2 linked regions of the Homo sapiens genome follow. The protein of the gene in region 2 interacts with the protein of the main gene of each other region in a biochemical or structural test. Each region holds a gene or a part of one and is shown on either strand. Other genes may lie near its edges.

Region 1 (7,024 bases), on a different chromosome or scaffold from region 2:
ACAAAAAATACAAACATTAGTTGGGTGTGGTGGGGTGCCCCTGTAGTCCCAGCTACTTGCGAGGCTGAAGTGGGAGGATCACTTGAGCCTACGGAGGTTGAGGCTGGAGTGAGCTGTGATTGCACTACTGTACTCCAGCCTGGGTGACAGAGTAAGACCCTGTCTCCAAAAAGAAAAAAGAAAAGAAAACAAAAAACACACAGGGGAGGATGGAAGTCCTTGGGAGGAATAGGAGCAACCAGAAAGTTTGTTTAGGTCCTGGGTTCTTCTGTCTCCAGAAAGGACGTACCCGGGCTGTAAGGCAGGAGCTGAGAGGATGGTATCTGAGCACTAGGGCCTTTGTTACCTGTAATTGGAGACAGAGAGAGCAATTGGGGAATGACACTCAAACCCGAGAACCCTGAGACATAGATGTTTATGGTTTAGGGTCAAACAGGGACATTTTATTTAACCAGACATAATTGCCTCTCTGGCTAACCAGACTCCACTCCAACTCCTTACCCAGAGAAGAAGAGTGAAGGCCTGACTACGACAGGGCCCAGAGCCCAGGCCAGCCTCCACTTTGTCCACAGCTAGCTGTAGGAATTCATCCAGCTGCTGCCCTAAAAAGGAGAGAGGAAATGCTGACATAAAGGCTACACATTTTCCCTTTAGCAATGAAATGCAAATCACTTTAAGTGCAGAGCTCCCTGAGAAGCTGTTAGAAAGGGAAAATATCATTTTTGCCTGTGGACAAAATGATTGGACACCTGCATAAGAGCCTGGTATTCTCATAATACAGAGGTGCTGCCATTTGAAAAGAGAGGGTCATCTACTTCCAATAAAGAATTATCCACACTAGCCCCACTGTAGGGAGTAGGACGGCAGAACTAGACTCTTTGTGCTCCCTTCTCTTCTTAGGTACTATAAAGCTCTGCCCAACTGTGGTCTTGACGCTTTTCCCACGGGCAGTCCCAGGACAGTGCTTGAGCAGTTGAAGCCCTGTTAATGTTATTAGCAAGCTCCTTTTAAAAAGAGAATGAGTACTGAGCTATAAGATTTCATGGGTAGTTGATTCTGGGAGGCTCCTTACATAGTCTGATCTCAGTACCTGCAGGGTGCTTGTTGAGGAGTCCTGCAAAGCACTTGGCAGCAGCGGTGGAAGAAAAGGGGCAGCTGTGGCAGCAGCTCAGTTCCAAAAGCTCCCGCATGAGTTGGTTCAGCTGAGGGATTTCCACCTACAGAAAACCTGGCCATGTAATGGACCCAGAGAACACTTGAACTCCAAGAGAACCAGTACATAGTGGCAGCAGGGACCGGGACGGATGAGAACTAACTTCTCTGGTGGGGGAAGTAAAAGATCAGCTTAGCCTGTGGCAAATTTCAGCCCGGAGTCACCTTGTCAAGGTTAAATAACAGTACTTCCCAAATGTGCTCACTTACATTTCGAGGCAGGGAGCAGACAAAGGCCATAAGCAGTGCAATCAGCCGCCTCTGCCCTGAGGAGCCATCCTATAAAGGAAGGAGAGCCCGATCAAGCCTGCCAGCAATAAGCTTGTCTGCCCCTCTACCCATTCCAGATTAGCCCTAAAAAAAAACCAGCTTGAAGGATGTAAGTTCTAAGACTGTTACCTGGAATGGCTGGAATCTGCTCGGGAAGCTGTTTTCAGGCAGAAAGGACACGTTGCCATCCAAGAAGAGGGGCACAATGTGTGTCACACTCTGGGCAGCTAACCTGGGGGCAGAGTACTAGGTATGACCAAGGAGCTAGGATTCTAAAGCAGCCCTCTCCTCCACAGACGTGCTTTTCAACCTAGGGTTTGAATTAGGATCACCACGTCAATGGGACATGCCCTGATCATTCATGCATTGAACAAATATTAATTTGGCACATATGTGCCAGTAATCATTTCCATTCAGGTTCCCATCTGGGAAGTCAAGGTATATTTTAAAATGCTCTACAGGTAATTCTTAAGCACATCTGCGGCTAAGAACCACTGGCCCTGGCTTCCCACCCTCATAGTCCATGGTGCTAAGAGCCCCTTCCTTTTGTTTTGTCAACAAAACTTACAAGACGATTAACTGCACCACATTTACATATAGGTAAAAGGACAGCTGACAAGGCAGCTACCTGTTGCTTCTTCCTAAGAATGCTATCCTTCTCCCTGGGTTCAAGCCACATCCATGATTATACTTACTCAGGGCTCAGGTGGGTTGTAGCAGTGCCAATGACAGACACCATGGCAGCCAACACCTCATCCTCCAATAGTACTTTTCTCAGAACTGAGGGCTCCTTCTCTGCAAAACACACACACATGCACACAATCACAAGACCATGACGGGTTCAAGAAATGAATGATTGGGTTCTGTCAGCATCACTGACTCTGGGGCTTGACTCTAGCCACGACAGCAGTTCTTAATCTGGTCTCTGGTAGTGCTATAGTCCTGAGAATCAGGGCACCAGAAACAGGAGTGGTCTGACCTGGGGCCACAGAGCGCTCCTGAGAACTCTGCACAGTCTTTAGACTAGGCCAACAGTGGGAAAGAGGGATAGCTAAGATGAACATTCTTAACATAAGAAATAGAAATGTTGTCCCTGGTGTCCCTGGAGATGCAAGGAAAAAAAAATAGTAATGTTGGTCTCTGAAAAAATTAAAAACATAGATTTATCTTCATGGGTCCTTATTATTTATAGCAACTATCATACACTGAGTACTTCCTATGTGGCAGGTACTATACACTAACTTATTTAATCCTTACCAACTACCCTGTGAAACAGTTTTTTTTTTTTTTTTTTTTGAGACAGGAACAGGATCTCGCTCTGTCACCCAGGCTCGAGTGCAGAGGCACAATCATGCCTCACTGCAGCCTTGAACTCCTGGGCTCAGGTGATCCTCCCACCTCAGCCTCTTGAGCAGCTGGGACTATAGGTGTGCACCACTATGTCTGACTATTTGTAGAAACAGGGTCCCCTGTGTTGCCCAGGCTGGTCTCAAACTCCTGGACTCAAGTGATCCTCCCATCTTGGCCTCCTGAAGTGCTGGGATTACAGGTGTGAACCATGGCGCCAGCCTAGACGGTACTCTTTATCTCCATCTTACAAGTGAGGAAATTGAAGCGTGGAAAGGCTGAATATCTTCACCTAAGTTAGCAAGTGGTAGAGTTGAGGATAAAACCCAACCAGGTGGGCTTGACTCCAGAGTCCAATTCTAAGTAAACTAATCACATAGCACTTCATGGGGAAAAGGTGTGCATTCTTTTGAATGTTGCTAACACTAGTGGATTTTGGTTCCTGCCACTGGTCAGGGTGGCACCCTTTGCTATGAAGTGAAATCTCACTCTGAGGACAAAGGATTGAAAATAAACCTCTGATGGTACAAAATACAGTACCACCAATACCCAGAGGGTGGTGCTGTTCAACACCAGCAGAGGGCAAAGTTCCCAAAGGCCAGGAAGGAGAGGTGGAAAGTTACCTGGCATAGAGGCCTGCACAGCCAAGGCAAGCAGGCAAGGTATAGCTGTCTGGTGGAAATACCAGCAACTCTCAGGGTCCTGCTGACATTTTTCTGCCATCTGTCTGAGGCTCTGACAGACAGCAATAACGTCACTGGATTGTGCAACCATATTCCCTGTTGATGAGAAAGTGTTCTCTGTAAGGTTTGCTTAAAAGCACTTTCAGGTGTTTCCAATTACACAGCAGATGAGAGGAACAAAGAAGAGTGACTGAAGGGACCAAGAGTGCCTTATTAAAAAGCTGAGTCACTTTATTCTCCTGGCTGTTCTTTCTGATCTATTCAGACTTCATAGTTGAGACTTGCTCTGTCCCAGGCTCTGCAGCAGAAGCACTTGTATATATTCTCTCCTTATTTTTCATAACAACCTTAGAAGTATCATTTCCCTCACTCTATAGAGAAGGACATGGAGGCACAATGAAATACATGATCAGTGGCTTTTCCAGGGTCACAGGAAGTGCAAAGTCAGGAATCAAGCCCAAGTTATAATCCAAGTCTAGTATTCATTCTACTATGTAACAGCTGCTGGATCAACCACAGTGGGCCTGAATCTACCCACAGGGCAGGCTGCTGTCACTTTTGCATTGGAGCAGTGCTTCTCAAACTCAACAGTCTACGAGTTACCAGGGTACACTGTCAAAATGCAGATTCTGATCAGTGAGGGCCTGAGATTCTGCACTTCTAACAAGCTCCCAGATGTCACCCATGCTGCTGGTTAACAGACCATCTTTTGAGCACCACGGCCTTAGGGTGATGCCTCTCAATTCAGATCCCACATGAAAATTACCTAGGTAATTTTTTTTTTTTTTTTTGGAGACAGGGCTTCACTCCTGTTGCCCAGGTCAGGCTGGAGTGCAATGGAGCGATCTCGGCTTGCTCCAACCTCTGCCTCCCGGGCTCAAAGTGATTCTCCTGCCTTAGCCTCCCAAGTAGCTGGGACTACAGGTGCATGCCACTGCTCCTGGCTAATTTTTGTATTTTTTGTAGAGATGCGGTTTCGCCATGTTGCATCGGCTGGTTAGGTCTCAAACTCTTGAGCTCAAGTGATCCATCAGCCTTGGCCTCCCAAAGTGCTGGGATTACAGGCATGAGCCACCACACCCAGCCCGGCACTTTTTTTTTTCTTTTTTGAGATGGAGTTTCACCCTGTTTGCCCAGGTGTGAGTGCAATGGCATGATCTTGGCTCACTGCAACCTCCGCCTCCCAGGTTCAAACGATTATCCTGCCTCAGCCTCCTGAGTAGCTGGGATTACAGGCGCCTGCCACCATGACCAGATAATTTTTAGTAGAGACGGGATTGCACCATGTTGGTCAGGCTGGTCTCAAACTCCTGACCTTGTGATCCACCCGCCTCAGCCTCCCAAAGTGCTGGGATTATAGGCATGTGCCACTGCGCCCAACCCTTTTTTTCTTTTGAGATAGAGTTTCACTCTATTGCCCAGGCTGGCCAGGCTGGAGTACAGTGGCGCAATCTCAGCTCGCTGCAACCTCCGCCTTGTGGGTTCAAGAGATTCTCCTGCCTCAGCCTCCCCAGTAGCTGGGATTACAGGCGCATGCCACCATGCCCAGCTAATTTTTTGTATTTTTAGTAGAGACTGGGTTTCTCCATGTTGGCTAAGTTGGTCTCAAATTCCTGACCTCAAGTGATCTGCTGGCCTCGGCCTCCCAAAGTGCTGAGATTACAGGCAAGAGCAGCGGCCCTGGCCGGGTACTCTTAATAGTACTGTTGCCTAAGTCCCATCCCTCCTCAGAGACTGATTCAGTTGGACGCAGGCATCAGTATTTTTTTTTTCTTTTAAAAGAGTTGATTCTGTTACTCTTATGTATAGCTACAGCTAGAACCACTGCCTTAGAGACTACAGCTCCCTATTCAGCCCAGTCCGTTGGTGGTTATTCCTAGTAGTTACCTCTGTTCACTTGCCAGAGATGCTGCAGCAGCAGAGGCAGTGTCTCCTTGACGATGCTGGGATGTGTTGATACAGCTGACAAGGCTTGCAGACAGCACAGATGCCGGGAGCATTGGGTGGGCTCATCTCCGTTAGTCAAATTTGACTCCCCTGAAAGCAACCCATGAGACAAAGGTTTACTGTGTGATAGGAAGCACGAAGGCCCCAAAGCCTTGCTGGAAAGGGATGGGCCACAGAGGATTAGAGACACATACCTACACGCAGCTCCTCAGCGAGCTTGGGTACGAGGTGGCTGCTGAAGGCCACAGGGTAGAGAGCAGCCAGGGTTCCTGATGCTTCCAGTGCTGCCACCCTGCTGGAGGCGCAGAGCAGATAAGCATTGGCTGAGCCTGGGCTCACAGCTCTCTTGCCTACGTCTGATATTAGGCAGATTCAGGAGTGTGAGCTCCCAACGCCTCCTTGCTAAAGAGCAGAACTCAAGTACCTACACCACTGAGTTGGACAGGGCTTCTTAAAGCCTAAGAAGAGAGCAGTCCTACATCTCTCCAACTGGTTAGCAGCCAGAGTCTAACACAGAGCTCACCTCCCCTAAGGAGAGCCAAGGGTCAGAAGCACAGAGCCCTGGTCCTAGCTTGATCTTTTGCTGCCAATACAGAGGCAGGGAACAGCTTGCTCTATCTCATTGCTTTAAATTCTCACCAACTCTGGGAATCCTCCTTCAGGAAGCTCAGTCTGTACAGGTGACCCACTGCCAGCTCCAAGTCCTCATAAGATAGGAGATCTGTAGTTAGAAGGGAACATGAATCTCATCTTTCTTCCCCTGCAGCCATCACAACCCTTCTAAGCTCTTATTAGAAATCCCAAATCATCCAGAGTTGCAGTAAGAAGAGGATAGTAAGGCTGCTTTTCACCAAGGCAGTCTTACAAGAAAAGGACCAATATTTTCCTCTTCTCTTTCCCTTAAGATGTACCTGGCTGGGCACCCAAGACTGTCAGTGTACGGATGCCAACAAGCTGAAGCTGGGTGCTGGGGTCTGTTAGAGCCATGAATACCAGTGAGCACAGCTGGTCCTTGAAGCCATTCAGAGGCCTTTGATCTAGGGAAGAGACAGAGGCCAGGTTAGAAGGAAGCCACTGCATTCCATATCCCTGACTAAGCTGTGATACACAGCCAACCTGGGGTAGATTTTTTTTTTGAGACAAGGCCTCTGTTGCCCAGGCTGGAGTGCAGTGGCGTAATCTCGGATCACTGCAGCCTCTGCCTCCCAGGTTCAAGCCATTCTCCTGCCTCAGCCTCCCGAGTAGCTGGAATTACAGGCATGTGCCAACAGGCCTGGCTAATTTTTGTATTTTTAGTAGAGACAGGGTTTCACCATATTGGCCAGGCTGGTCTCGAACTCCTAACCTCAAGTTTTCCGCCTGCCTTAGCCTACCAAAGTGCTGGGATTATAGGTGTGAGCCACCATGCCCCGCCTCCTGGGGCAGATTTAAAGAGCTTAATCCATTGGGTATCCAGAAAGCACACTGAGAAAAATAAACAGATCTCATCCATCTCATCTGTTAAGTGTTCTCTTGTGCTACAACCTCAGAATAGGACCACTGTTCTAGACTACTTTTCCACAGCA
Region 2 (7,024 bases):
GACAGGTCTTGAAAATGAAGGGCTTTTAGTGGAGAATCTTTGTGTGGGTGTACTTGAGAGAGGGCAGGAGAGTTAGGGTGACCTAGAAAGATAGATTGCTGGACTTGTATATGTTTCCTCAAAGCCAGACTGCAGCATTTTGTTAGTAAATTGTTGTGTGTTCTACTGTCAAACCCAGGCCTGGAAGGGGAGTTGAGTGCATTCAGCCTAACTTCTGGATTGGCTGTGTCATCTTGAATCCCTTCACTCGGAATTCTCTCTGACCCTGTCCCAAATGAATATTTGAATTTGGTCCAGTTCCTACAGAGCATGGTCTGTGGCTGTTGTTGGTGTTAGGGAAGAGCAGAAACTTGCTGTTGAGAGAGAAGACACTTGAGAAGACTGATGAACTCTCTCCCACCCCTGCCTTCGAGGCTTGGTCCTCCTACCCTATTCAAACCCTTGAAACTCTTTCCTATCCAACTAAATAAGCGCCAATTGGTTACTAGGAGAATTAGCTTTTCCTCATTTTAGAAGGAAACAGGGTTTCCTTATGTACATGTTCTTAAGAATTACATGCAAATCAGTTATTAATGATGAGTTCTCTGGTGATTTTGGAGTGTTTTATCTTCCTAATATTAAATTAATTGAGGGCCTTAATATTTTGTTTTGAAAGAATATATTTAAAAAGGCTGGGTGTGGTGGCTCACGCCTGTAATCTCAGCACTTTGGGAGGCCTAGGTGGCTGGATCACTTGAGGGCAGGAGTTCAAGACCAGCCTGGCCAAATAATGAAACCTTGTCTCTGTTAAGAATACAAAAAATTAGCTGGCCATGGTGGCTCAAGCCTGTAGTCCCAGCTACTCAGGAGGCTGAGGCATGAGAATTGCTTGAACCTGGGAGGCCGAGTTTACAGTGAGCCGCGATCATGCCACTGCATTCCAGCCTGGGCAACAAAGCAAAACTCTATCTCTAAATAAATAAATAAATAAATAAATAAGAATACATTTAAAGATAATAATTGGCCAGGTGTGGTGGTTCATGCCTGTGATCACAGCACTTTGGGAGGCCGAGGTGGGAGGATTGCTTGAGGCAAGGAGTTCAAGATCAATCTGGGCAACACAGTGAGACCCTATCTCTACAAAAATTTAAAAATCAGCTGGGCATGATGGTGCATGCCTTTAGTCCCAGCTACTTGGGGGGCTGAGTTTGGAGGATCCCTTGAGCCCAGGAGATCAAGGCTGCAGTAGGCCATGATCTTGCCACTACACTCTAGCCTGAGTTACAGAGCTAGAGTATAACCCCCACCCCCCAAAAAAGCTAATAATTGTCAAACAGCTACTTATGCACATCAAGGATGCTTGTTGCTTAAGAAATCTTTTTAAATCTTTTCCATGAAATTCCTTCTAGTTGCTGCTTTGTGAGCGTGAATTTTTTACTTCTGCAGGACACACAAATGTGGAGCATTTGAACTGAATGCTTGGGAAAGTGTGATGGGCAGGTGGAAGAAGAATAGGGATGAGGACTTATCCTCTATTCTTATCCTCCTAGACTTATCCTCCTAGTCTGCAAGCTTGAGAATATGGCATCAGGAATATGTGGCATTTTGTCCACACACACAGTGTTGGCAGGCTACCAGCAGCCCAGCTATCTGGACTAGGGGTGATGGATTTCTGTGGACAGAAGTCAAAAAGTAAAATTAGGAGGCAAAAATCTTCAGGGTGGCCATAAAGACATTGTAACTTGTCTGGAAATTCCAACCAACACTAAATGTGTATCCAGTGATATACCAATAGACTGGCTTCATCTTCTTGGATGTGTAATAATACCTTACAGAATGCTTTCTTTTTTTTTTTCTTTTTCTTTTTCTTTATTTTTTTTGAAATGAAGTTTTGCTCTTGTTGCCCAGGCTGGAGTGTAATGGCACAATCTCAGCTCACTGCAACCTCCACCTCCCAGGTTCAAGCGATTGTCCTGCCTCATCCTCCCGAGTAGCTGGGATTACAGGCATGTGCCACCATGCCCGGCTAATTTTGTATTTTTAGTAGAGACGGGGTTTCTCCATGTTGGTTAGGCTGGTCTCAAACTCCCGACCTCAGGTGATCTGCCCACCTTGGCCTCCCAAAGTGCTGGGGTTACAGGCGTGAGCCACTGCGCCCGGCCTCAGAATCCTTTCACAGACATCATCTCATTTCACCCTCAGAGCACCGTGAAAAGGTACAGCACCAAATAGGTACCTGATTCTACTGAAGAAGATGTGGCAGCTCAGGGAGTTTGTGGATTTGTCTAAGATTGCCTGGCTTTCAGGCAGAGCTGGGGCTAGAATGAATGTTCTGCTCTATCCATTGATAGAATATACATAAGAACAGGCTTGATGGTGGCTGACCTTTTTTTTTTTTTTTTTTTTGAGACAGAGTTTTGCTCTTGTCACCTAGGTTGGAGTGCAGTGGCGTGATCTCGGCTCACCGCAACCTCCACCTCCTGGGTTCAAGCGATTCTCCTGCCTCAGCCTTCTGAGTAGCTGGGTTTACAGGCAAGCGCTGCCACACCCGGCTAATTTTGTATTTTTAGTAGAGACTGGGTTTCTCCATGTTGGCCAGGCTGGTCCCGAACTCCTGATTTCAGGTGATCTGCCCACCTTGGCCTCTCAAAGTGCTGGGATTACAGGCATGAGCCACCCGCGCCCGGGTGACTGATTTCTTATTAACTAGATTTACAGGTGCTTTGATAAAAACCAGTCTAGTCTTGGCTGGCACGGTGGCTCATGCCTGTAATCCCAGCACTTTGGGAGCCCAAGGCGGGCGGGTCACGAGGTCAAGAGATCAAGACCATCCTGGCTAACATGGTGAAACCCCGTCTCTACTAAAAAATAGAAAAAATTAGCTGGGCATGGTGGCGGGCACCTGTAGTCCCAGCTACTTGAGAGGCTGAGGCAGGAGAATGGCTGAACCCGGGAGGTGGAGCTTGCAGTGAGCCAAGATTGCACCACTGCACTCCAGCCTGGGCAACAGAGCAAGACTCCATCTCAAAAAAAAAAAAAAAAAAGTGTAGTCTTTTTGGAGTGTTTTTCTGCCATTTCTAGGGCCAAACTTTTTCTTGTCCATGAATCATTGTCAAAATTGGGAATTTTAAATACTACTTTTTTCTTTTAATTCAAAAGCCATAGTATGTTTCCCAGCCAGTACATTAGAACACCATGCACGATCCCATGTGTACAAAAAGCTTTCTGGCTGAATTCAGATGTGACCTGAGAGGGCCAAATACAGGGGTGTGTGCTGGGAGAGAGAGAGAGGTCTCTGGACAGAAAACAAAGCCTGTTCACCACCCAGGATATGGACCAACTATTTTAGGTTATGGTGACTAAAGAAAATTGACATGCAAATAAATGAATAATTCTTAGAATCAGGATGTCTGGGTACTGGTTCTTTGGTTGGCCAGGTGAAATTCCATGCCAGGCCCAACAATTAAACTCTTTAGAGACAATTTTTTCCTGTTGTACCAGAACATTGTACTGAGGCCATGTTTGAACATTCAATCGATGTGTTGGGAAAACTCTGCCCTACAATGTTAAAGAAATTAAATCTTTTGGGGAGTCTTTCCTTTGACCAGTTTATATCTCTGTTTTAGAGGAGGGCTTCTCAACCAGAATGGGTTTGTTGACTTATTTTTACAGACCTCTGGTAGAAAGGAGGTCTTTTTTTGCTACCTGTTCTCCTGTCTCAGAGAACTATTACAATGGTGTAAGTTCATCATTTCTTCCCCTTATTATGGCTCTGCTTAGGAAGAAAAACTCTTTGCATTGGCTACCAAGTACCTAACTATTCAAGATGCCACTGACAAAGAGTTAATCTGTGAATCATGTGAATCTGATATATCTGAAATATATCCAAACAAAAAGCACCTAGCCTTTTAATGACTCTCCAGAAGTCAGTTCTCTAACTTTAATTATCATCCTTCTGGGGATATGTGGAAATTCTACAGAAGTTGATTGGTGATATGTTGAGATGTGAGATCTGTATTTTCTAAGCAAAGTTGCCATGCACCTGATTGATTGGCTAGGTGTATCCTGGCATTTGTCATTTGTTGGTGGGGTCTGATAGTTGGTTTCACCACTGCTGGGTACCCAGAGTCATCACATCCATAGAGACAGAATGTAGGCTGGTGGTTGCCAGGGGCTGGGGGAAGGGAGGAGTGGGGAATTTGTTTAACAGAGAGTTTTAGTTTTGCAAGATGAAATGAGTTCTAGAGATTGGTTGCACAATAATGTGAATATCCTTAACACTACTGAACTTTATACTTAGAAATGGCTAAGATGGTAAGTTTTATGTTACATGTATTTTAACACAATTAAAAAAGAAAAAAAAAAAAACAACTTCAGGCCAGGCACGGTGACTCACACCTGTAATCCCAGCACTTTGGGAGGCTAAGGCGGGCAGATCACTTGAGGTCAGGAGTTCAAGACCAGCCTGGCCAACATGGTGAAACCCCATCTCTACTAAAAATACAAAAATTAGCCTGGCCTAATTGTGCATGCTTATAATCCCAGCTAATTGTGAGGCTGAGGCAGGGGAATCGCCTCAAACCCTGGAGGTGGAGGTTGCAATGAGCCGAGATCACACCACTGCACTCTCCAGCCTGGGTGACAGAGTGAGATTTCATTTCAAAACAAAAAACCACTTTAGAAACTGCTAGTTTTGGCAATAGTTATCACTATATGTTTTATCCTGCATATTTTCTGTTAAGAATAAGGAATTGTTTATGTTGATCAGGAATCTAAGTAATTAAAATACAAAATTCTGGCTGGTGGCTCTCGCTTGTAATCCCAGCACTTTGGGAGGCCAAGGCGGGTGGATCATTTGAGGTCGGAAGTTCAAGACCAGGCTGGTCAACATGGTGAAACCCCATCTCTACTAAAAGTACAAAAAATTAGCTGGGCATGGTGGTAGGCACCTGTAATCCCAGCTACTAGGGAGGCTGAGGCAGGAGAAGCACTTGAAGTCAAGAGGCGGAGGTTGCAGTGAGCCAAGATTGTACCACTGCACTCCAGCCTGGGTGACACAGCGAAACTCCATGTAAAAAAAAAATGAAATATAAAATTCCATACTCATTATTAATTACATATAGTATTAAAATAAAACCCAAACACCAAACCTTCCTTGATCCTATATCCTTCTCCAGCTACCATTCTCTCTCCTCTCCTTGGTCCAAATTTTTGATTTACAATGTTGGTTGGAAGTGGTACCACTTTGGTGTTAGTTCCTTATCATTTTACCTGGTCTGTCCTGCCTCTTCCTGGTACATTAGCTCCCTGAAGGCAGGGTGTATGTCCCAGAACTCCTTGAAGTCCCTTTTCTCAGCATACTACCATGCCTACTGCAGCACCCCCCATCTTTAATGTCCTTGACTTGGTGAAATATTACATTTTGAACACATTTCCTCACTTCCTTATGACAAATATTGATTGAGTTTCAGTGCAAGGTGAGTAAGAAATGGTACTTGCTTTCAAGGAGCTAAAAATCTGAATTTCCTTTTTTTTTTCTTTTTCTTTTTCTTTTTTTTTTTTTTTTGAGACAGAGTCTCACTCTGTCACCTGGGCTGGAGTGCAGTGGCACGATCTCAGCTTAATGCAGCCTCCGCCTCCCAGATTCAGTGATTCTCATGTCTTAGCCTCTCGAGTAGCTGGGACTACAGGCATGCACCACCACGCCTGGCTAACTTTTGTATTTTTAGTGAAGATGGTGTTTCACCATCTTGGCCAGGCTGGCCTCAAACTCTTGACCTCATGTGATCCACCCACCTCGGCCTCCCAAAGTGCTGAGATTACAGGCATTGACTTTACTTCTTACTCTCCTATGCACCTCTATCATTTTGAAGAAGGGTTCAAGGTAGTTCTGATAAGCAGGATTAGGTTTGTATGTAAGTGATTAAAGGGGTGCTATGAGCAAAAAAAGTGTGAAGGTATAACAAGCCAACCACCTCACAATGCAGTTTGCATGTTTCTTAATGGACATAGCAGGTTTTCTGTAAGAAAACAGCAGGAGATTCGTGTGGAATGATGGGTTGAGGCAACATAGTGGCATCCCTTGAATGCTCGAAGAATGTGACTTAGAGTTTGGTGGGAAGCAGAGAGCTGGGTTTTAAGAACATGAATCTGACAACTCTATGGATCTGGAGGAGAAGCTAACTGGGGACGAGGAGCAGTAAGAAGCCTGTTACAGATGCACTGATAAGAAGTAATGAGAGCTGGCCGGGCACAGTGGCTCACGCCTGTAATCCCAGCACTTTGGGAGGCCGAGGCGGGCAAATCACAAGGTCAGGATTTCAAGACGAGCCTGGCCAACATGGTGAAACGCCGTCTCTACTAAAAATACAAAAAGTTAGCTGGGCGTGGTGGCGGGCGCCTATAATCCCAGCTACTCGGGATGCTGAGGCAGAAGAATCGCTTGAACCTGGAAGGTGGAGGTTGCAGTGAGCCGAGATTGCGCCACTGCACTCCAGCCTGGGTGACAGTGCGAGACTCCGTCTCAAAAAAAAAAAAAAAAAGTAATGCGATAATGAGAGCTTACTTCAAGATGGCAGCAAAAGACAGTGGAAAAAAGGCATTGGGAAAAAAAGCCAATGTGCCTTGATGAGTAAAGTTAACTGAGTCAAGGGGAGAAGTCAAAGGTAACTATGATGGGCTTTTTCTATTAACACAAATAGGAAATGAGTGGTTTTGGGAAAGAAAGTGATGAATTACCCCTCAGATATTGTATTAATTGTCTATTACTGTGGCCGGGCATGGTAGCTCATGCCTGTAATCCCAGCACTTTGGGAGGCCGAAACAGGCAGATCACTTGAGGTCAGGAGTTCGAGACCAGCCTGGCCAACACGGTGAAACCCTGTCTCTACTAAAAATACAAAAATTAGTGTGGTGGTGTATGCCTGTAATCCCAGCTACTCAGGAGGCTGAGACATGATAATTGCTTGAACCTGGGAGGCAGAGATTGCAGTGAGCTGATATGGCGCCATTGCACTCCAGCCTAGGCAACAAGAGTGAAACTCCA

Evidence for each region. Proteins that work in one complex are often made in the same cells at the same time.
Region 1: the proteins of ESR2 (region 2) and MMS19 form a complex in vitro, tested with the Homo sapiens proteins (one study listed by BioGRID).

The regions. Positions count from the first base shown.
Region 1 is NC_000010.11:97,460,406-97,467,429, forward strand, and holds part of MMS19 (MMS19 nucleotide excision repair protein homolog), read right to left. Parts: intron 6,497-7,024; coding exon 6,371-6,496; intron 6,181-6,370; coding exon 6,099-6,180; intron 5,755-6,098; coding exon 5,654-5,754; intron 5,550-5,653; coding exon 5,400-5,549; intron 3,609-5,399; coding exon 3,453-3,608; intron 2,278-3,452; coding exon 2,178-2,277; intron 1,715-2,177; coding exon 1,612-1,714; intron 1,492-1,611; coding exon 1,423-1,491; intron 1,218-1,422; coding exon 1,091-1,217; intron 603-1,090; coding exon 502-602; exon of another isoform or gene 415-501; intron 347-414; coding exon 290-346; intron 1-289. UniProt on the Homo sapiens protein: Key component of the cytosolic iron-sulfur protein assembly (CIA) complex, a multiprotein complex that mediates the incorporation of iron-sulfur cluster into apoproteins specifically involved in DNA metabolism and genomic integrity.
Region 2 is NC_000014.9:64,284,348-64,291,371, reverse strand, and holds part of ESR2 (estrogen receptor beta), read left to right. Parts: intron 1-7,024.